5 linked regions of the Homo sapiens genome follow. The protein of the gene in region 2 purifies or fractionates together with the protein of the main gene of each other region. This does not show direct contact. Each region holds a gene or a part of one and is shown on either strand. Other genes may lie near its edges.

Evidence for each region.
Region 1: the proteins of AKR1B1 (region 2) and PRMT2 purify together in Homo sapiens (co-immunoprecipitation; one study listed by IntAct). This does not show direct contact.
Region 3: the proteins of AKR1B1 (region 2) and CSMD1 purify together in Homo sapiens (co-immunoprecipitation; one large-scale study listed by IntAct). This does not show direct contact.
Region 4: the proteins of AKR1B1 (region 2) and PGD fractionate together in Homo sapiens (co-fractionation; one large-scale study listed by BioGRID). This does not show direct contact.
Region 5: the proteins of AKR1B1 (region 2) and HEBP1 fractionate together in Homo sapiens (co-fractionation; one large-scale study listed by BioGRID). This does not show direct contact.

What each region holds. Positions count from the first base shown.
Region 1 is NC_000021.9:46,645,017-46,649,394, forward strand, and holds part of PRMT2 (protein arginine N-methyltransferase 2), read left to right. Parts: intron 1-3,441; coding exon 3,442-3,603; intron 3,604-4,378. UniProt on the Homo sapiens protein: Arginine methyltransferase that methylates the guanidino nitrogens of arginyl residues in proteins such as STAT3, FBL, histone H4. Acts as a coactivator (with NCOA2) of the androgen receptor (AR)-mediated transactivation.
Region 2 is NC_000007.14:134,451,978-134,456,355, reverse strand, and holds part of AKR1B1 (aldo-keto reductase family 1 member B1), read left to right. Parts: intron 1-4,378. UniProt on the Homo sapiens protein: Catalyzes the NADPH-dependent reduction of a wide variety of carbonyl-containing compounds to their corresponding alcohols.
Region 3 is NC_000008.11:3,405,797-3,410,174, reverse strand, and holds part of CSMD1 (CUB and sushi domain-containing protein 1 precursor), read left to right. Parts: intron 1-569; coding exon 570-752; intron 753-1,949; coding exon 1,950-2,276; intron 2,277-3,953; coding exon 3,954-4,148; intron 4,149-4,378. UniProt on the Homo sapiens protein: Potential suppressor of squamous cell carcinomas.
Region 4 is NC_000001.11:10,405,341-10,409,718, forward strand, and holds part of PGD (6-phosphogluconate dehydrogenase, decarboxylating), read left to right. Parts: intron 1-2,730; coding exon 2,731-2,800; intron 2,801-4,378. UniProt on the Homo sapiens protein: Catalyzes the oxidative decarboxylation of 6-phosphogluconate to ribulose 5-phosphate and CO(2), with concomitant reduction of NADP to NADPH.
Region 5 is NC_000012.12:12,989,871-12,994,248, reverse strand, and holds part of HEBP1 (heme-binding protein 1), read left to right. Parts: intron 1-4,378.

The sequences.
Region 1 (4,378 bases), on a different chromosome or scaffold from region 2:
TTGGCTTGAGACCAAGTGTTCAAGACCAGCCTGACAACATAGTGAGAAAAAATAAAAAATATAATTCGTCTCTACAAAAAAAAAATTAAAAAAAAATATAATTAGCTGGGCATGGTGGTGCACGCCTGTAGTCCCAGCTACTCGAGAGGCTGAAGTGGGAGGATTGCTCAAGCCTTGGAGGCCAAGGCTGCAGTGAGCCATGATGGCGCTGTTGCACTTCAGCCTGGGCTACAGAGCGAGAGCCTGTCTCAAAAAAAAAAAAAATAGAAAAAATTCTATAAATCTATGAATAATACTACTTAGGTCAGGTGTGGTGGCTCATGCCTGTAATCACAGGACTTTGGGAAGCTGAGGTCAGAGCATCACTTGAAGCCAGGAGTTCAAGTCTGTGGTGAGCTATGATTGCGCTACTGCACTCCAGCCTGGGTGATTGAACCAGACTCTGTCCCTAAAAAAATAATAAAAGCCCAGCTTCTAAATAGCTTACCGAAATTTTTTCCCCACCATGGAGAAATGCCTATAACCCGATGGTCCAGGCAACAATCTCTGGTTACATTTTAAAACTAGATGAAAACAGTTACTTGCAGGATGAATGTTATAAAAATGATGTTAGTTGAAAGAAGGAATAGGGCAAAGAATCTATAACGTTTGACTCAATTATATAAAGTTAAGAGGCCATATTAGAAGGTTTTTTGTTTGTTTTTGTTTTTTTTTTTTTGAGACGTAGTCTTGCTCTGTCACCCAGACTGGAGTGTGGTGGCAGGATCCTAGTTCACTGCAGCCTCTGCCTCCCGGGTTCAAGCAATTCTCCTGCCACAGCCTCCTGTGTACCTGGGACTACAGGTGCGTGCCACCATGCCTGGCTAATTTTTGTATTTTTAATGAGGGGGTTTTGCCATGTTGGCCAGACTGGTCTTGAACTCCTGGCCTCAAGTGATCCTCCTGTCTCAGCCTCCCAAAGGGCTGGGATTACAGGCATGAACCATTGCGCCCGGCCGGAAGGTACTGTTTGTGAGTGTGCATGGGTGCTGAGACTGACTGAGGGCAGGAGTGGCTCCCCTGTTGGTTGAATGGAGGTTACCTGCTGGTAGGGGAGGCTCTGGGACCAGCGTGGCTGAGTCAGGAGTTCTGACATGCTGGCAGTGTTCTGGGGTTGGATATAGGTATAGAGGTGTTTGCTATATAACAATACTTGACTAACTCTGCAGATACTTTTTATTGCACTTTTTCGCAGGTATGCCATATTTCACAATTAAAAGTGTTAAAAACTATTCATGTCTGTACATGGTTAGTGATTTCTATCCGTTAAGGAAAGATACATAATGAAAAGCCAATTCCAGCCTCCCACCTCTGCCGCCTCTCAGCTCAAAGAACCACTGCCCACCAGATTCCTCTGTGCTTATGAAGTCCAAGTGACACCTAATGTATTTTACGTTTTTAATGTATAGAAAAGGCATTGTTCCACCACTCAGGTCTTCACCTTGCTCTTTTCACGTAGCTGTAGTATTTTGAAGATCTCTCATATTGGCACCTGTCACTCTTTATAACAGCTGCAGAGCGTTGTGTTACTTTAAAAGGGTCCTGTTGATATTTGGACAGTGGTTATTTAATAGCTTTTTATCATGATAAATAATGCTGTAATGGAGTCCTGTATAATCCTGTTAAATGCTGTTTAGAATTTCTATAGGGTAAATTCCTACGGGGTGTGTGTGTGTAGTGTGTACATGTGGTTTCCTTAAGTGGATCTTGCCAGTTCGCCCTCCAGAAAGATTTGCTAATTATACACTTGGTCTGTTTGTGCTGCTGTAACAAAATACCTTAGACTGAGTGAATTATGAAGAACAAAGCTTTGTTTCTCGCAGTTCTGGAGGCTGGGAAGGCATTGGCATTGGTGTCCAAGATGGCGCCTCATGGCTGTCCTCACGTGGTGAAGGCGGGAGGGCTGGGAGCACCTCTTTCACCACAAACCCTTTCATAGTAACCTCCAAAGGTGGCCTCTTAATGCCATCACACTGACGATTAAGTTTCAGTACATGGATTTTTGGAGACATTTCAGACCGTGGCATGATGGTGTGTGAAAGCTCATTTCCCTACCACAAATCAAAGTGAAAAAGGACTTTGATCTTAAAAGTTAAATATGGCATCTTTTAGTTTTGATTTCCATTTTTTAAGTAAGATTGATTATCTTTTATGTGTTTATGGGCCTTTTGTATTTTTTCTTTTTTTGTAAACTTTCATATTATTTGCCCCTTTTGATTTTTGTTGATTCGTGTGTTAAGTAATTTAGCCTGAATTTGTGAAGTTTTGTGACTTTGTGAAATTTTTTCCCACGTACAACTTTTTTCTTTGTATAGCCTAATATGGTTTTCTTTTCTTTGTGACTTCTTTTTCTTTTCTTTGTGAAAAACCTTCCTCACTATAAGATTATAAATACCCACACTTTTGTTTTCAGAACTGTTATGATTCTGTGTTATTTTATTTTTGTTTTTTATGTTTTTTAGAGATGGTGTCACACTCTGTCGTATGAGTGGCTGGAGTGCGGTGGTGCAGTCATAGTGCACTGTATCCTCAAACTCCTGGGTTTAAGGGACCTTCACCTTAGCTTCCCAAAGTACTGGGATTACAGGGGTGAGGCACCCTGCCTGGCCTTCTGATTCTATTTTAAACAATGAGATTTTAAATAATAAAAAATCTAGAAATTATTTGTTGTAAAAAATATAATGTAAAATTCCGCCCTAATGTATGCCCACAAATCTCCAGCGACCCCAGCCTCAGTTACTGGACAGTTCCCTTCGCGTTGATGTGAAACGGTGCGTTTGTCCTGCTCTGGATTTCAGGGGTCTGCTGTAGAATTCCTGTTGTTTCACTGGTCTGTTTACTGCAGTTCCCAGTGCTTCGTCATTTCCATCACTGCACCTTTGTAGGATCTGCAAGAGCTAGGTCTCCAGCAGTTCTTTTTTTTTTAAAGCATTTTCCTCATTAGCCTTGGGCACTTACTGTTTTGAAACTAATTTTATTATCATTTTGTTGTGCTTTCTCCTTTAGTAGGTACTGCATGGAATGTTTATGTTAATTTTGGGAGAGCTGACATCTTTATAACATTGACTCTCAGTCTCTGATTACTTAAGCTTTGTTTAATATCTCTTAGTATTTTAAGATAAGGACAATATCTCTTTGTCATACATGGTTGTGCACCTTTCTTGTTAAATTTGTTCCTAGGTATTTTTTGTGTATTATTACTGTTATAAGGGGGTGGGTGAAGTGTTCTCTAAATACCAATGAGATTAACTTGGTTGACAGTGATGTCCAGGCCTTCCATAGTCTTCCATAGGGGTGTTGGGGTCAGGGGTCATCAGCTGTGGCTCTGACCCTCCATCTCAGTCCAGACCTCAGCATGGCTCTAGGTCACAGGCAGTGATTCTGAATGTGCATTTCTTCCAGAAACTCCACTTGGAGATGTTGGCAGACCAGCCACGAACAACTAAATACCACAGTGTCATCCTGCAGAATAAAGAATCCCTGACGGATAAAGTCATCCTGGACGTGGGCTGTGGGACTGGGATCATCAGTCTCTTCTGTGCACACTATGCGCGGCCTAGAGCGGTGAGTGGGGTCTCGAGCGCATCCCGGGTGTTTGTGCCGAGGCTGGTGACGTCCGAGGTGGCCTCTGAGTGTGCTGACTTGTGACCCTGAGCTGTTGGGGGCTCACCGGTGACTCCATGGTCTTGTTGAGCACCCTGCACGTGGGGCTCAGGGTCGGTAAAATAGCAGTGCGTGGAGACCGCGTGCTAGAGGCCGTGGCGCCCGCGTACAATGAGTCGCAGACAGCACAGACGGGAGTAGGGCAGAATAGACAATATCCCGTGAATTGCGTGGGGCGGGGTATGTTCTGTGAGACGTTTATTTCAGTTGAGTAGAGAAACACGTGCACCCACATGTCTGTGCTGGGCCTTGGGTGTGGTTGGTCTCATGGGGTTGGGAGGGATGCACACGCTGGGCCCCCTCCCCACCCCTCTTAGGCCGTCTATACTGTGCTGAGCTGAGCCGAGCTGCAGCCTTGGAGACTCCTTACACAGTGGGTGGGGTCGCAGCACAGTGTCCACCCAAGTCCAGGCTCTGCAGGACCCAGGACCCAGCGCTTGGGTGCTTCCCACCAGACCCTTCCCTGAGAACCTGGGTTTGAAATTGTCTGACAGGCCTCAGATGTGGCACAGACCAGCATTGTCACTTGGGTGCTAAGAAGTTGCTGTGCTGGTCATGGATTAAGATTGCTGTGCGTGTGGCAGCCGGCTCGGGCATGCGAGTCTTCCATCCACTTGCAGCCCTGCGTCTGTGTCTTGTCCGGGAGGTGGGGGCAGTTGGGAGGGTTAGAGGCGGC
Region 2 (4,378 bases):
TCGTGGCACGCACCTGTAGTCCCAGCTACTTGGGAGGCTGAGGCAGGAAAATCGCTTGAACCCCAGATGTGGAGGTTGCAGTGAGCCGAGGTCCCGCCACTGCACTCCAGCCTGGGCGATGGAGCAAGACTCCATCTAAAAAAACAACCAAACAAAAAAACCTTTCCCTTGTATGTGTGTATGTATTCTTTCACAGATGCTCGACAGAAGATGTGATCCTTTGCCTGTCTTTGTGACAGCTGGAGGAGGCCCTGCAGGCAGGTGCAGTTCCTTATTCTCCTGGGTCTTCCCATGCCGTAGCGGCTGTGTTGTACCTTTCAGACCCTCAGCAGGGCTCTGGTAGTCTCTACTCTTGAAGGTCCTCAAACTCCATTCTCTTCTCAGGTGAGGGTTTCAGGCAGATGGGGAGACCATCTCTGCCCCAGACCCATGTGGCTTGGACAGGGTTTCTTTCTGGCAGTCTTGCCTTCTACATTGGATAGTAAACAATTACACCTGTAATCCCAGCACTTTGGAAGGCCAAGGCGGGTGGATCACCTGAGGTCAGGAGTTCGAGACCAGCTGGCCAACATGGTGAAACCCCCTCTCTACTAAAAATACAAAAATTAGCCCGGCATGGTGGTGGGTGCCTGTAATCCCAGCTGCTTGGGAGGCTGAGGCAGGAGAATCACTTGAATCCAGAAGGTAGAGGTTGCCATGATCTGAGATTGTGCCACTGCACTCCAGCCTAGGCGACAAGAGCAAAAAAAAACTCGGTCTCAGAAACAACAACAACAACAAAAACCCATCACAGCATTGTAAAGCCAGGAAGCTTTTAAAACAGAGATGATGTCTGGTGCCCACCAGTGTCTTGTTACTGATAGTGTTTTTAATCTAGTTGAAAAATTGTTGGAGGTAAAAGTCATTGTAAGTCTCCTATGTATGCTCACAGAATACTCCTAGGGCTGAAGGTACAACTATGTTTCTCCATCTTTTGCCATGATCACTACCTCCCTCCCACCTAGGAGCCTTGTGAGACTTTTTTTTCCCCTAATTTGCCCCAAAATAAAATTGTAATATCAGAGATAATATTGTACTTCTGCTTATGGCCAGTAGCCTTCTAGAGGGTCACAAGCTGTTCTATAAGCTGAGGGGGGTTTTTTTGCCCCAGAGAACTAATTTTTGTCTCTTTGGGGACAATAGCACCCACTTTAAGAATGCATGAGGTAAAAGAAAATGTGCCAGGAAAGACTTGCTCCACCTTCCCCAAGTGGGGTAAGCTTGTGATGGCCCAAGATCCTTGGATGGGGTGAGGGTTGAGGCGCTGTGGGCATGGAGGTAACACAGGAGCCAGATTTACTGTTCACTTCCCTGGTGTCTCTAAAGCCCCCATCTCTTCCTCTTCAAGACCAAAGACATTTAAATAAGCCCTGCCCCTACAGGGTCAGTCCTGGTCCATGCACATCTCAACTAGTTGGAAACAGCAGTGTCTTAGAATTTGGGACAAATTGATTAAAACAGAACAGGAGGAAGTTAATTTCTGCTGCCAAACCTGATTCTGAGTGATCGTTTCCTGTTCCTTGCTCCAGGATTATCAGCACAGCATTCTCATGCTTCCTACTCAGGACCGTTTCTTTACCCAAAGTGAAGTTTCCTTTGCCCCCTCCCCTTATCCTTTGATTTCAGTAGTAACACCTGCTAACTAGAGAACATTTCAAAAATGAAGAGTTCCCTGTTCCCAGAGATCCCCGTGGTTAATATTGCAAAATATCCAATCTCTGAGATACTTTGGTTTTACCATAAACACTGTCCTGTGACCGTCTTCCTGTTTAGCACTGTGGCTTGCTTTTTGACTTGCAGAGGGAAGAGAGGGAGGGGTATCTTGAAGTAACTAGCAAGACCTGTAAGCAAAAGGGAAGAAGACTAGGTTTTAAAAGGAGTGTTGTATCTGTGTAGGAGGGAGACACTGATTTTAGTTATCAGTGTCTCAGAGTTGGTATTAGCCAGCCGGTGTTATCAAAGGAGGAACTAGGACCGCTGTCTTGAAGGAGGTGGTGGAGGACTCAAGGGCAGAGGCTTCTCACTGCCATCACTTGGTGCCATCAGCCCAGAGCATTTCAAGTCACTGCCCAACGTAGAGCTTTGCAGAGCCAGAAGTTCTGGGAGGAATGGGCATGCATGGTTTTGCCCATCAAGGGCACACAGATTAGTGGCAGGATCGGGTTAGAAACATGTAGGATTTGTATGATTGAGCTGTAATTGGAGTGTTTCATATACTGCATTTCTACAGCTCTCATCAGTAATGGCTGTGCCTGGATGCCACCCAGCATGTTTTCATAGTTTACCTTCTTTTTAGAAGTCAATCTGGACCCCTCCTTCTGTTTGCATTTTCTCTTTGTTGACATGGAATGGGGAGATGTTGTCATCCTGTGTTGGCATTCCCAAGTTTAGTGAATGGTTTCTCACCATAGCTTAAGTTGGCTGCTTCATTTTTCATAAGGCAAATTAGTTTCTCTCAGGGAAGGGCTGTACATTGAGATCATTAACATAGAATGTGGTTGTGGATCCTCGTACATTTTCATTGCAGAGGTGACTTTTTCCCTCCAGCACCTTTGATCAGCCTCCCAGCACACATGTCTCCAGCGAATGGCACATATCCAAGGAATGATCAGCAGCTTCTTCGTGACCTCTTGCAGTCATTGCTGTCTTTTACTTTTCTAGAAAAACCTCTCACAACTTTTTTTTCATGTCGTGCCAACGCAAGCTTGATTATCCTAGTCTGTGCTCTTTTGGTTCCAAAGAACTGAAAAACCACTTTAATCTTAAGCAGGAAAAAAAAAAGTGTGTTTGGGGTGGGGATTGATTGACTTCCCCAAACAACAGCCGCTGACATTAGGTGTTTGAGATTCAGGGTTGTAAATGTTGTCACCAGGATTTGGCCTCCCTCCACTTTCCTGCAGCAGCTCCAGGCTGACATTCTCCCAGCTCAGTGACCCCAGCAGAACCGGGGCTGGACTCAGGGGTTCCAATTCAAGTGCAAAGATTGAGTCTTATGGCCTGGATTGAGTCATGTTCCTGTCCCCGCACCAGTTGCATGGCAGGCAGTGCGTGGCTAGGCTGAGCCTGCGGAGTGTGCCCTCAGCAGCTCCTCAGAGAAAAATCAATCAAGGCGCCATCAAGCCTGGAGAAAGTTCAGTGTGTCCTGGGCAGTTTCCTGCCTGGGCCCCAGTTGTTCTTTCTGGGGTAGGGATGTCCTCTGCTCTCCCTGCTGTCATCAGTGGTGGTTGTGCCCGGACACCACTCAGGGCCTGTGGTAAGGCATTCTTTCTGGAAATTGAGATTCTCTGTTCCTTCAACCGTGCAGAGTGGGGAAGGCTGCAAGAGCAGCTTCTGAGGTCCTCCAGTCAAATAAGAGGTCGCCAGGTCCTCTGAGGGTCGTCCCCTCTTAACCCACACCTTCGATGAGCATCCCCACCCTGCCTCGCTGCTCCCTCTGAGGTGGAGAGTGAGCTCCATGCTAACAGGCTCTGGTAACGGGCTTGTTCAACTGGGCCCCTTTCTTCCCCAAAGCCTGTTGAAAATAGCTGATGTCAAAACACAGATGTCTGCAGCTGCTATGGCCCTGGGGGGTTTTTCTTTTCATTTGTTTCTACCCCAGCTCTCCAAAGGAATGTGCTCTGTTCATTCAACAGCCCGCTGCACATGTTTATTGCTCAGCTCTGTGATCATAGCAGGATAGTGAAAGTTGGGGGATACGTGTCCATGCAGCCTACCTGGGTGCCAGTGAAGCGCGATGCCATGTAGGCACTTCCTCCTCCTCTTCAGTAGCCAGGCTCCCCACAGCTGTTCTGGTTACTCAGATGGTCAGGTGGCTTGGCCATGGACACCCATTCAGTCATTTTGCCAGGTCAGCCACTAACCATTTGGTGATCTTCCATGATCCACATTCCCCCTCGTTTCCCTTTAACTTATTTCTCTCTGCTGATACCTCTGAGGGGCCATCTCCCGTGTCTCCACCCCTTGAAGCAGATCCTCATACAGTGAGAATTGACACATGGGCCTTTGAATAAACATCAGTGATGTGCTTAACTTCATGATAATCTCCCAGAACCGCTTGAAAACAAGCGACTGCCGGTATCAGAAGCCATGCATGAAAAGAGAGCGTAAGGGGCAGGCATTCACTGGCTGAACTGGGGAGCCACATGGGAATTGGGGTCCATAGGACATCTATTTTTGAAATATTTTGAGATATTTGAAGGAAATGGTTTCCCTTACTATCTCAGCATTCAGAGTGTGGGGAAATGTTTTTAATACAGTGGTTTGCAAATCAGTGGATGTGAAGAAGCAAGAAAATGAGATGGCTTCAGCATATCTTTTAAAAGTGATCTCACCTACACTT
Region 3 (4,378 bases), on a different chromosome or scaffold from region 2:
TTTGGACGCATATGTTATTACAGTGATGTTTTAATGAAAGATTGATTCTGAATATTTTGTTTTCCTCTGTAGACCAAACTGTTATTCATTCTGCTTCATAAGTGAGTGTTAACATTCATTTTAGGGAAAGAATATTCAAATAGATTCTATTTATTTAAATACTCAGTAGGGAATGAAGAATATTATTTGTATTGTTTATAGCAAAAAGCACATAGTTGAAAATTAAACTGGTATTTGCATTTTAGTAGTAGCAATTGCAGATAAAAGATCGGAGGTATCCAGAAGATGCACCGATTAATTGCAGCATTTGTGTTGTCAGCGTATCTGTGTAGCCACGTGTATCCCTTAAAAGATAGCAAATTAAATACCTTTCCCTTCATTTGAAATGACATTCTTTTTCTGGTATTTGAAATTAAATTTAAGATCAATTGAATATCCTTTAGAAACACTTTACAAAAATGATGTTTAGTTCAGCAAAAAGAAGCCACGTATTTACTTTCTAAGTTGTAGAGATAAAAATATTCCTTGTGTGTGTTTTTTTAAGGGTTCATTTGTTTTTCCATTTTCAGAAATTGAAAAGGGAGGGTGTGGGGATCCTGGAATCCCCGCCTATGGGAAGCGGACGGGCAGCAGTTTCCTCCATGGAGATACACTCACCTTTGAATGCCCGGCGGCCTTTGAGCTGGTGGGGGAGAGAGTTATCACCTGTCAGCAGAACAATCAGTGGTCTGGCAACAAGCCCAGCTGTGTATGTGAGTATTATGCCTTGACCTGGACTCCCTCCTGTCCTGCAAGGATCTTGCAAGGGGAGAAAAGGAGAAAGACACAGACCGCCCATTTAGGGAGGGCAGCTTTCAGAATGGCTCGGGGTGCCACATTTACTGGAAACGTGCAAGGACGTTCTCGAACACCAACTTGCCTGCTTTCTTCATTTAGTAAAAACTAATTTATAGTTTCATTACATCTACTCGACAAAATGTACTTGAACGTTTCCTACCAGAAAGGGTCATCACATATATCGTTGTTTCCATCAAAAGCCAGTGATGATCTGCTGTATCAGACATCAGTACAGCAACAGAGTCCTTTGTGACTTAATAATGCTGTATAACACTTAAACACAAGTTGTTCACCAGTGCGAGCATGGGTGGTGGTATTGGTTTGGAATTCAGTTGATGAGCTGCCCACTTCCTCTTAAGAATACTATTTTAACAAGTAGAAAAGGCTTCACAGTCGATTTTAAAGGAGAGGTTTTTTTTATTTGTAAATAACTATAGCAAAGGCTGAAAAGTGTGTACAAAATTATATGGAATAAGAAGCAAAAATGTATTCTAGAGATAAATCCAACAGTTTCTCCCTCCAAAAAATTATTTATATAATATATATGATTTTAAGTACACATTCTTAAAAGTAAATTTTTCAAAATACTTTATATTATCCAACTAGAACATGATCTGATGTTTCCAAGTTATTTATTTATTCATGTTTACCCTGTAACTAATAAAAATTTTAAATTACTGGAGAAAATGCACTCACAGGAAAGTATAAAATATAAATTTAAAAGTTATGAAAGAGCAGGCTGAATTGTTCCTATGATATAGGAATATACTTTTCCATATTAATATTTGCTCTTCTGAAGGCAGAAAATTATAACTAGAAATTATAATATTTGGCACACGTTTTCAGTCAACTGGAAAGGATCATTTTTGAACCACGCTTGTGCTTGATTATGTATAGGTTCTGGTTGTGCTCTATATGATAATGAAATATTCGACTTACAAATTAGGAAAGGAGAAAACATTATGGTCCAGAATTACTTATATTAAAATAGTTGGATCATCATAGCTATTTGCAGGCATGAATTGCCTTTCCAGGTTCTTAGCTGTCTGTTTCACATGGCAATTCTTTGGATATGTGCATAACTGTTTGAAAATATATTTGCATCTTCACAGTTTCATGTTTCTTCAACTTTACGGCATCATCTGGGATTATTCTGTCACCAAATTATCCAGAGGAATATGGGAACAACATGAACTGTGTCTGGTTGATTATCTCGGAGCCAGGAAGTCGAATTCACCTAATCTTTAATGATTTTGATGTTGAGCCTCAGTTTGACTTTCTCGCGGTCAAGGATGATGGCATTTCTGACATAACTGTCCTGGGTACTTTTTCTGGCAATGAAGTGCCTTCCCAGCTGGCCAGCAGTGGGCATATAGTTCGCTTGGAATTTCAGTCTGACCATTCCACTACTGGCAGAGGGTTCAACATCACTTACACCAGTAAGTACGCCCACACAGTCAACACATCCAAGTTCTCATTTTACTTACATGTTCCCATTTTGCTTATATGTATGTGAAGTTGCATTTCAAGGTTGATACTTCAGAGGTTTTATAATCATTATGAAAATGACAGTAGTAAAATTATAGTGTTATCCTGAAAACTTAAAAACAAATGTATCACTGTATTTAGATAGGTGGCTTCATCACTCCTAAACTAAGAAGCTGGATCTCCTCTCTCTTTCATCTCCTTACATCTCTTTCTCTCCGGTTTTCCATTTATCCATCCATCCATTCATCCATCCATCATTCTATCCATCCATGCACCCACCAAACCATTATTCCATCTATTCTTCCATTCATCCATCCATCTGTCCATCTGTATCCTTTCATTCATCCATCCATCATTTCATCCATCCATGCATCTATCCATCCTTTCTTCCATCCATCTTTCCATCCATCCTTCCATCTATCCATCCATCCTTCCATCCATTCATCCTTCCATCCATCCATCGTTCCATCAATCCATTGTTTATCCATCTTTCCATCCATCCATTCATCATTCATCCATGTGTCCATCCATTCATCCATTATTCCGTCTATCATTCCTTTTATCCTTCCATCCATCTATCAATCCATATCCTTCCATTCATCCTTCCCTTCCATCGTTTTGTCCATTTATCTATTATTTCACCCATCCATCCATTCATCCATATCCTTCCATTATCCATCCTTCCATCTGTCCATCCATCCATGCATGCATGCATTCATCCATCCATCCTTCCATTCATCTTTCCATCCATCCCTCCATTCATCTTTCTTTCCATCCCTCCATTCATCCAGCCAGCCAGCCATTCTTCCTTTCTTCCTTCTATTCTTCCTCCCATCTATACAACCATCCACCCACCCACTCAGCCACTTATGCATCTTTCTTGCAACAAAGTAGTGTAGTAAAAACAACTGTGTAATATGATGTCAGGAGCCAAGGATTAAAATACAGCACTAGTATGTAATTAGTGAAGTTTAATGACAGCTCATTCTCTTTGCTTTAGGCTCCTCATTTTAAAACCTATTTTATGTAAGAATATCTACTTAAATGCACTGTAGATGGAATAAAGTGAGAGAATATTAATATGAGTAATACTACATTATGATATGCTAACTGCCTAGTTTCTTAGGCAGAATACTTAGAATTGGACAATAATTGTTTCATTTAGTGTTATAGTAACTAGAGGATATAAATTTAGTAGTCTCTCATTCTGTAAATAAAGATAGCTAGGCTTAGAGCGTCAGAGTCATATGCCCAATGTCAGAGTCCTCTGACATAGTAAGAAAAAAAGTCAGGATTCTAACGAGAGAAATCTTGAGCCCAGACACTTTCTACCACCCACCATATCAGTTCTCTCTTTGTCTAAGCTCCTATGAAAAGTGCTTTTCAAACCCTAAATTGCTGCATAAATGATAGTTATATTTGTTCATCTCCCTGCTCGCTCTTTCTCACTAGACACTGATATCCTATTTATTAATGTATTATCTATCTATGAATGATACAACTGAAATTTATATAATTATATACATTATATGAATGCTTTATAAGCTTGTTCTGTTTTCTTCTTTTTTAATACATGTAATTAATACTCAAGTATTTTTATTCCTTTTTTCTTCTTCTTTTTCTTTCAGCATTTGGTCAGAATGAGTGCCATGATCCTGGCATTCCTATAAACGGACGACGTTTTGGTGACAGGTTTCTACTCGGGAGCTCGGTTTCTTTCCACTGTGATGATGGCTTTGTCAAGACCCAGGGATCCGAGTCCATTACCTGCATACTGCAAGACGGGAACGTGGTCTGGAGCTCCACCGTGCCCCGCTGTGAAGGTGCAGTCCCTGCCACCCCCCGCTCTTCTCCTTTGAAATCACACATCTATCTTCAGGCACACACACAAACCAACAAACTGTGTTAGCTTGCTAGGGCTGCCCTAACAAAATACCACACACAGTCACTTAACCAACAGGAGTGTACAGTCTCCCAGTTCTGGAGGCTGGAAGTCTGAGATCCAGGTGTCATCGGCAGGGTGGGGTCCTTCTGGAACTCTGAGGGAGGATCT
Region 4 (4,378 bases), on a different chromosome or scaffold from region 2:
ACCCTGGCGACAGAGTGAGAGTTTGTTTCAAAAACAAAACAAAACAAAACAAACAAAAAATACACACACACACACACACACACACATATATATAAATAATTGTGGGCAATCCGATATATATATAAATAATTGTGGGCAATCCGCTTGCCCTGGCCTCCCAAAGTACTGGGATTACAGGCGTGAGCCACCGTGCCTGGTCTGAAATATGATTCTTTAAGGCTGGGCATGGTGGCTCACGCCTGTAATCCCAGCACTTTGGGAGACTGAGATGGGAGGATCACTTGAGGTCAGGAGTTCAAGACCAGCCTGGCCAACATGGTGAAACTCTCTACTAATAATACAAAAATTAGCCGGGCATGGTGGAGGGCACCTCTAATCCCAGCTACATGGGAGGCTGAGGCACAAGAATCACTTGAACCTGGGAGGCAGAGGTTGCAATGAGCCGAGATCTCACCACTGCACTCCATCATGGGTGACAGAGCGAGACTCGGTCTCAGTAAAAAAGAAAAAATGATTCTTTTTTTGAGACGGAGTCTTGCTCTGTTGCCCAGGTTGGAGTGCAGAGTGCAGTGGCGCGATCTCTGCTCACTGCAAGCCCCACCTGCCAGGTTCACGCCATTCTCTCGCCTCAGCCTCCCAAGTGGCTGGAACTACAGGCACCCACGACCACGCCCAGCTAATTTTTTGTATTTTTAGTAGAGACGGGGTTTCACCGTGTTAGCCAGGATGGTCTTGATCCCCTGATCTCGTGATCTGCCTGCCTCAGCCTCCCAAAGTGCTGGGATTACAGGTGTGAGCCACTGCGCCCAGCCAAAAATAATTTTTTTAATTACCTTTCTGGTGAATGAGTCTGGGGATTCTCTTCAGTGTGTTATTAATAAAACACAGAAGTAGAGAGGCCTTTCTGCTTCTCAGAAGTTTAAACAGCTGTGTGTGCAGTGGCTTGCACCTGTAGTGCCAGCTATTCAGGAGACTGAGGTGAGAGAACTGCTTGAGCCCAGGTGTTCAAGGCCAGCCTGGACAACATAGCAAGACCCTGTTTCTTAAGAAAAAAAAAAAAGGTTTGAAAATACTTATCTCGAAGCACCTGCACAGTGAGCAGTTAGAAAGGCAACCAGCAGACAATGCACGTAAAAGTATTTGACATATGGAGTGCTCCAGTTGTTTCCATCAGTTCTCTTTCCTCATACTGTGGTGGCAGAAGTACAAATGGCACCTTTACCAGAAGGACACTGTAAAAGTTCAGTGAAGCTCTGCGGTTTCCGGTGTGGCTGTCTTCATCCCTAATCCTAAATGTTAACTTTGCAACCCTGTAAGATTTCATGTCTGTACCAGAAACTTTTTGTGAGGAAGCCTTGACTGGCCATTAGGGAGCAGAACAGTGAGGGAAAGTCTCAAGAGTAATATATCCGCGTGCTGAGCTGTGGAAGGAATGAACAGCGGCCTTTCTCTGAATGGTAATGTAGCTCTCAAAAACGCTGCCTGGTTCTTAATCCAAATGTCCAGAACCATTCTGTGCCTGGCAGCACACATCCAGACAAATGAAAGAGGGTCTCTTCACTTGCTAAAAGCCATTATAAGGAGAAATAAAGAAAAGGGAAAAAATTAAAAGAGGATCTCTAAAGGAACTTTCGTATTGCCTGCTGTTTGCAATCATACTGTCTGCTGCTGCTGCAGTAGAAATTTCTGAGCCGGGTGCGATGGCTTATGCCTGTAATTTCAGTGACTCAAGAGGCTGAGGTGGGAGGAGTGCTTGATCCGAGGAGTTCAAGACCAGCCACATCAACATAGGGAGACCCCATCTCTGCACCACCAACAAAAAATTAGCCAGGCATGGTGGCTCACGCCTATGGTCCCAGCACTTTGGGAAGCTGAGGTGTGAGGATTGCTTGAGGCCAGGAGCTCAACACCAGCCTGGGCAACATAGCAAGATCCTGTCCCTACAAAAAAAAGTTTTTAATTAGCTGGGTGTGATGGCACACACCTGTAGCCCCACCTACTTGGGAGGCTGAGGCAGGAGGATCACCTAAGTCCAGGAGTTTGAGGCTGCAGGGAGCCGTGATTGTGCCACTGCACTCCAGCCTGGGCAACAGAGTGAGACCCTGTCTCTAAGAAGACATTTCTTCTGGTGCTTTGGTGATGCTTCTGCTCAGCCTTTCTGTCTGTAGTCTCAGTCCGATAGTCCAGTCTGCTTTGAGGGCCCACCAGGACCTGGAGGAGGGGCCAGTTTCAGTCAAGGGTCTGCAGTTGACCTTGAGAACTTAGCACATTCATTATCTTTTTGTGGGCACTTCCACCTCCCATTAGAAAGAAAAAGATGGGCCCAGTGCGGTGGTGGCTTATGCCTGTAATCCCAGCACATTGGGTATCCACGGTGGGTGGATCACTTGAGCTCAGGAGTTCGAGACCAATCTGGGCAACATGGCAAAACCCCATCTCTACAAAATCCAAAAAAATGAGCTGGGTGTGGTGTCACATACCTGTAGTCTTAGCCACTTAGGGGGCCGAGGCAGGAAGATTACTTGAACCTGGGAGGTTGAGGAGGCTGCAGTGAGCTGAGATCACACCACTGCATTCCAGCCTGGGTGACAACGTGAGACCCTGTCTCAAAAAAAAAAAAAAAGAAAGGAAAAGATAGGGGTTGGTGTCTATGGGTATGTTGGTGTCTATGGGTATGGGCTCTCAGCCCGTCTCTTCTCATTAACTGAACCACACTGTTTCTTTACACAGGCCCCACATCAAGACCATCTTCCAAGGCATTGCTGCAAAAGTGGGAACTGGAGAACCCTGCTGTGACTGGGCAAGTTCTGGGCTACTCTTTAAAGCCAATTGGCAACATGGGCGTGTCTAAGTGATGAAGTGCGTGGAGAAAGGCCACCGTGGTCTCCCAGGGGTTAGCTTGGTGACATAAACGTCTCGATCTTTGATTGCTAGAATAGCCAACGCCTAGAATGCATGCCTGCTGTTCACATCTTTGTATCTTAGCTGACTGTTCATAGCCTTGAGGTTGATATTAAAAGCAGCCTTCTATAATTCATCTAAAAGATGAATTCTTTAAAAAGGAATAGGATGAAGTGAAATAAGATTTTTTCGAGCCATATTATTTCATGGCCAAAGGAAAGAATGTCAGAATCAAAAGTGGCGTTTGCTTGCATGGGTGAAAGGTGGAAGATTGAAGGTACTGTTGCTGTGTCAACATTCCATGAACGTGGAAAATTCCCCATCCTGTAGTGTGGGATTCAGGCATTCTGTGCTTGAACAAAGTAACCTGTGGACTTGCACCCTCACTGAATATGAAGGAGGCCTAACCTAGTTCATAGTACAGTGGTGCGATCTTGGCTCACCGCAACCTCCACCTCCCAGGCTCAAGCAATCCTCCTGCCTCAGCCTCCTGAGTAGCTGGGACTGCAGGTGCATGCCACCACGCCTAGCTAATATTTGTATTTTTTGTAGAGACGGGGTTTCACCATGTCACCCAGGCTGGTCTCAAACTCCTGGACTCTCAAGTCATCTGCCTGCCTTGGCCTCACAAAGTGCTGAGGTTACAGGCATGCGCCACCATGCCCGGCCTCGTGTTGCTGTTAAAGTAAACTTTATCTCATATTGTAGTTCAGCCATGCTGTGGATGGAAAAAAGCATTAGGCTCAGGAGACCTGAGTGGCAGTTCTGGCTTTCCATAAACTTAACTGTGACATCAGGCAAGCCACGTCCCTTCATGGACTTCAGTTTCCTTATCTGTAAGATATGGGGTTGGATTACATGATCTCCAAGCTCTCTTCAGCTCCTGATTCCCTTTAATTTTATATCAGCAATTTTAATGTGAATTTTATTATTCAATTTTATTTTATATGAAATCAATGCTGAGGTTGAAATAAGGACTCAGGCCTTTGAGGAATCCGGGAAGCCCTCCCTCCTAGGCCTGCCAGTGCTTGGTGGCTTTGGCCACAGCAGCTCACTTGTCCTTACCTTTTCACCAGTGGTTGGCCATTGAGCTCAGTCAGAATCTGCTTAGGGTAGAAAGAGGCTGGTGCTGGGACTGACGTAAAGAGCTGAGTAATCTTCTCATTAGTGTGAAGGATTGGAAAGGGACCTCTGTTCCCTGACAGTAGATTACTGCGGTAAAAGGCCGGGTGTAGTGGCTCGTGCTTATAATCCAGTATTTTGGGAGGATCCCTTGAGCCCACGAGTTCAAGGCTGCAGTGAGCAGTGATCATACTACTGCACTCTGGCCTGGGTAACAGAGAGAGACCCTGTCTCTTAAACAGAAAAAAACAAAAAGATCACTGCAATAAAAGTGAGTGGTAGCAACTTTTTTTTTTTTTTTTTTTTTTTTTTGAGACAGTCTTGCTTTATCGTCCAGGCTGGAGTGCAGTGGCAT
Region 5 (4,378 bases), on a different chromosome or scaffold from region 2:
TGCTCCAGCCACAACTATTTGTAATATTTGTACTCACAGTCATCATACTGTTCTTGACCCCTCCTCGTTTACTCTTATGGTACCCACTACCTGGAATATCCTCCCCAAATGATCAGAGCATTTACTGCATTGTACAATAATTTGTGTAATACTCCTCACCATCCTCCTGATTATCCCTATCATATTAATCTCCAAATCTGTACCACCTGGCAAAGGTTTTCGACAATGTTTATTCCATGAATTAATAAAGTAGTGACTGAACGTCCGGTTGGGTGATCTGTGACCACCTCAAAGTCAGCTTGACCTCCCCAAACATGTTATCACATACACCCATGCCCCATAAACTAACCTAAGTGGTCCTTTCCTGTGTTCCCATACTGCCCTGGCACTCCTTGCCCCCTAAAAATATCATTAGATGATAACATTCTGTTTTCCTGGCATCTTCCCTTATAGCACCTGTAACAATGTTCAGCACATGGTAGATACTCAGTAGTTGTTGGTTAAATGAATAAAAGAAGAAAAAGACCAAAGGAAAGAGCCAGTTAGCTCTTTCTCCAGTGAGATCTTGTTTTTGGTCTTCCCATTTGTAAAAGAAGTAACTGCGTAAAATGACTTCTGATACCTCTATTCTGAATTTGATATGGGCATACAACTGTCCGCCCAAAGTATCTAACACAGTGGCTAAAGAGAGAGGTTACAGACTGGGCAACATTGCAAGACCCCATCTGAAAGAGAGAGAGAGAGAGAGAGAGAGAGAGAGAGGAAAAGAAAAAAAAAAAAAGCAAAGACACTTTGGAAGGCTGACATAGGTGGATCGCATGAGCTCAGAAGTTTGAGACCAGCTTGGGCAACGTGGTGAAACCCTGTCTCTACAAAAGAAGACAGAGAAAACAAAATACAAAAAAAATTAGCTGGGCATGGTGGCACACACCTGTAGTCCCAGCTACTTAGGAGGATGAGGTGGGAGGATCACGTGAGCCCAGGAGGCTGAAGTTACAGTGAGCCAAGATTGTACCACTGCACTCCAGCTTGAGCAACCATGAGACCCTGTAAGAAAGAGAAAGAAAGAGAGAGAGAGAGAGGAAGGAAGGAAGGAAGGAAGGGAGGGAGGGAGGGAGGGAGGGGGAAACGAAAGAAAAAAAGAAAGACAGAGAGAGGAAAGAAAGGAGGATAAAGAAAAGAAACAGAGGTTTAAATGCTCACTTCACCCCCCATAGCTTTAGAGAACCTTGCAACGAGTATTAGACTGGAGTAGACTAGAGTTTGGGAACTGGAATTTTTGTTTCAGTTTCACCATTCAGTAGTTACATCACTTTGAGCAACTTAGTCTCTCTGGTTCTTCATTTTCTCCTTGATAAAATTAGTTAGATTAGGTAAACTTTAAAACCATTTTAGGTTCTGAACTTCTGTGATTCACAGGATAGTGTTTCTGGAATTTAAAACATTACAAGTGCCAAGGGTAGGTGCGCTCTCAAATGAAAGGGGAGTTCTGGAATTCTCTGCAGCAACAGAAAGAGCAAAACACCCTAAGTTTACTTAACAGTTTGCTACTGAAGGCTCTTTGGAAGTGTCAGATTCACCAGATGGAGGGCTTCACAGCAGCCTCAGAATGATTCAGCACGGTGCCCCACAGTCAAGGCTGACTTGCTGCCTCATGATTCCTGGTCTGGCGCAATTTCCTCTACCCCATGTGAAGGGGGATTTAAGTACAAACTTGGCACTCAGGGTTAAAATTACAATATTAAGGCCGGGCACAGTGGCTCATACCTGTAATCCCAGCACTTTGGGAGGCCGAGGTGGGCAGAACACCTGAGGTCAGGAGTTCGAGACCAGTCTGTCCAATGTGGCAAAACCCCATCTCTACTAAAAACACAAAAATTAGCTGGGAGTGGTGGCGTTCGCCTGTAGTCTCAGCTACTTGTGAGGCTGAGGCAGAAGAATCACTTGAACCTGGGGGGTGAAGGTTGCTCTTAGCAGAGATCACACCACTGCACTCCAGCCCGGGTGACAGAGCAAGACTCTGTCTCAAAAATAAAATAAATATTAAATATGCTCATTGAGACTACACTTGCCACTCACAGCCGTACAGTCCTGCCTTCCTCCAGAGACACCTTCTGTCCCCCTGGGAGTCACACCCTCTTCCCTAGTTGTGAATCTTCAGTCTAGGATATTATATGAAAACCTATTTGACCAGTCTAGGGCAGCCAGGTTCCCTACCATGTGTCTGTTTTTCATAATCATTGTTAGGAGACACAGCACCTTAATCAAATAAATATCTGTTGCACTTCTCACATGTAAAGCTCTGTGGTATAGTTTCTGCCCATAAAGGCTTTATTGCAGATTGTTAAAACTATAATAATGTTTCATTACCAGATGGTAAAATTAACATAGACCAACTTTCCTTCTTCTAATGGGATGGAATAAAATTCACTCCAGTAGAGTAGAAGAGAAGAAAACAGGATAGGGGAAGGAACAAAAAAAAAGCCAGGATGCATCTCATCCATAAGGGTAAAGCATTACTTTGTGAAACTTTAACTATGTGTATATTCATGATAAGACAGGCTGTAAAAAATGCTTTCCTTCTTGTGGATTGTGATTTTTTTTCAAAATGTGAAGAACACTGCCTTACAGTATGTCCAGGAATACAAAATTAAATTATATGAGCAATCACGTGGCAAGGAGCAGGAGATGTACTGAAGGAGAGCTGTGGGGGTCCATAATGAGTAAACACCAGGGAAAGGATAGTCCAAGGACAGGGCCTCAATGCAGAAAGTGGTGATGGGGAGATGAAAGAAGGATTTGTGTGAAAAGAGACAGTGGAGCTGAGCATTAAGCAGATTGGGAGGCTGTGATTTAGTGAGACAAGAGTTAGGGAGAGGATATGCTGTGTCTGGGAGCACGGTGTGAACAGAGCTACAGTCAGCCCTTCCTGTCTGTGGGTTCTGGATCCACGATTCAACCAACCACAGATGGAAAATATTCAAAAAATAATAATAGCAATACAGCAATAAAAAATACATAAATCAACAGCAGAGGCCAGGCGTGGTGTAACTGCCCAGTGGGTTCACCTTGCCTGCTGCCTAGATAGAACCAATTTATCAAGACAGGGGAATTGTAATGGAGAAAGAGTAATTCATGCAGAGCCAGCTCTGCGGGAGACCAGAGGTTTGTTATTACTCAAATCAGTCTCCCTGAGCATTCAGGGATGAGAGTTTTTAAAGATAATTTGGCAGGTAGTGGCTTGGGGAGTGGGGAGTGCTGATTGGTCAGGTTGGAGATGGAATCATGGGGGGTGCCAAGTTAGGTTTTTCTTGCTGTCTTCTGTTCCTCGGTGCAATGGCAGAACTGGTTGGGCCAGATTACTGGTCTGAGTGGTGTCAGCTGATCCATCGAGTACAGGGTCTGGAAAATATCTCACGCACTGATCTTAGGTTTTACAATAGTGATGTTATCCCCAGGAGCAATTTGAGGAGGTTCAGACTCTTGGAGCCAGAGGCTGCATGACCTCTAAATTGTAATTTCTAATCTTGTAGCTAATTTGTTAGTCCTGCAAAGTCAGACTGGACCCCAGGCAAGAAGGGGGTCTTATTGGGAAAGGGCTGTTACCAATTTTCTTTCAGAGTCAAGCCACGAACTGAATTCCTTCCTACAATTAGTTCGGCCTAAGCCCAGGAATCCCACAAGGACAGCTTAAGGGTTAGAAACAAGATAGAGTCAATGAAGTCTGATTTCTTTCACTGTCATAATTTCCTCAGTTATAATTTTTGCAAAGGCAGTTTCAATTGTGGCTCATGCCTATAATGCCAACACTGGGAAGCCAAGACAGGAGGATTGCTTGAGCCCAGGAGTTTGAGACCAGCCTGTACAACATAGGGAGACTCTACCAAAAAAAAAAAAAAATTTTTTTTTTTAATTAGCAGGGCATGGTGGTATGCACCTGCGGTCCCACTTACTCAGGAAGCCTAAGTAGGAGGATCGCTTGAGCTCAGGAGGTCGAGGCTAGTGAGCCATGATCATACCACTGCACACCAGCCTGGGTGACAGAGTGAAACACTGTCTCAAAAATAAATAAATAAATAAAATACATGTGTGTGTGTTTGTGTGTGTGTGTGTGTGTGTGTGTGTGTGTGTGCACAGAGAGTAGCAACTATTTGCTTGGCTTTTACATTGTATTAAGTATTATAAGTAATGTAGAGATGATTTAAAGTATGTATGAGGATGTGTGTGGGTTATATGCAAAATACTACACCATTTTATATCAGGGACTTGAGCATCCATGGATTTTGGTATCCATAGAGGTCCTGGATCCAGTCCCCCAAGGAGGCCAAGGGAAAAATGAACTCTGATTCCTTGAATTGCAGTCCTCCTACTAGAATGA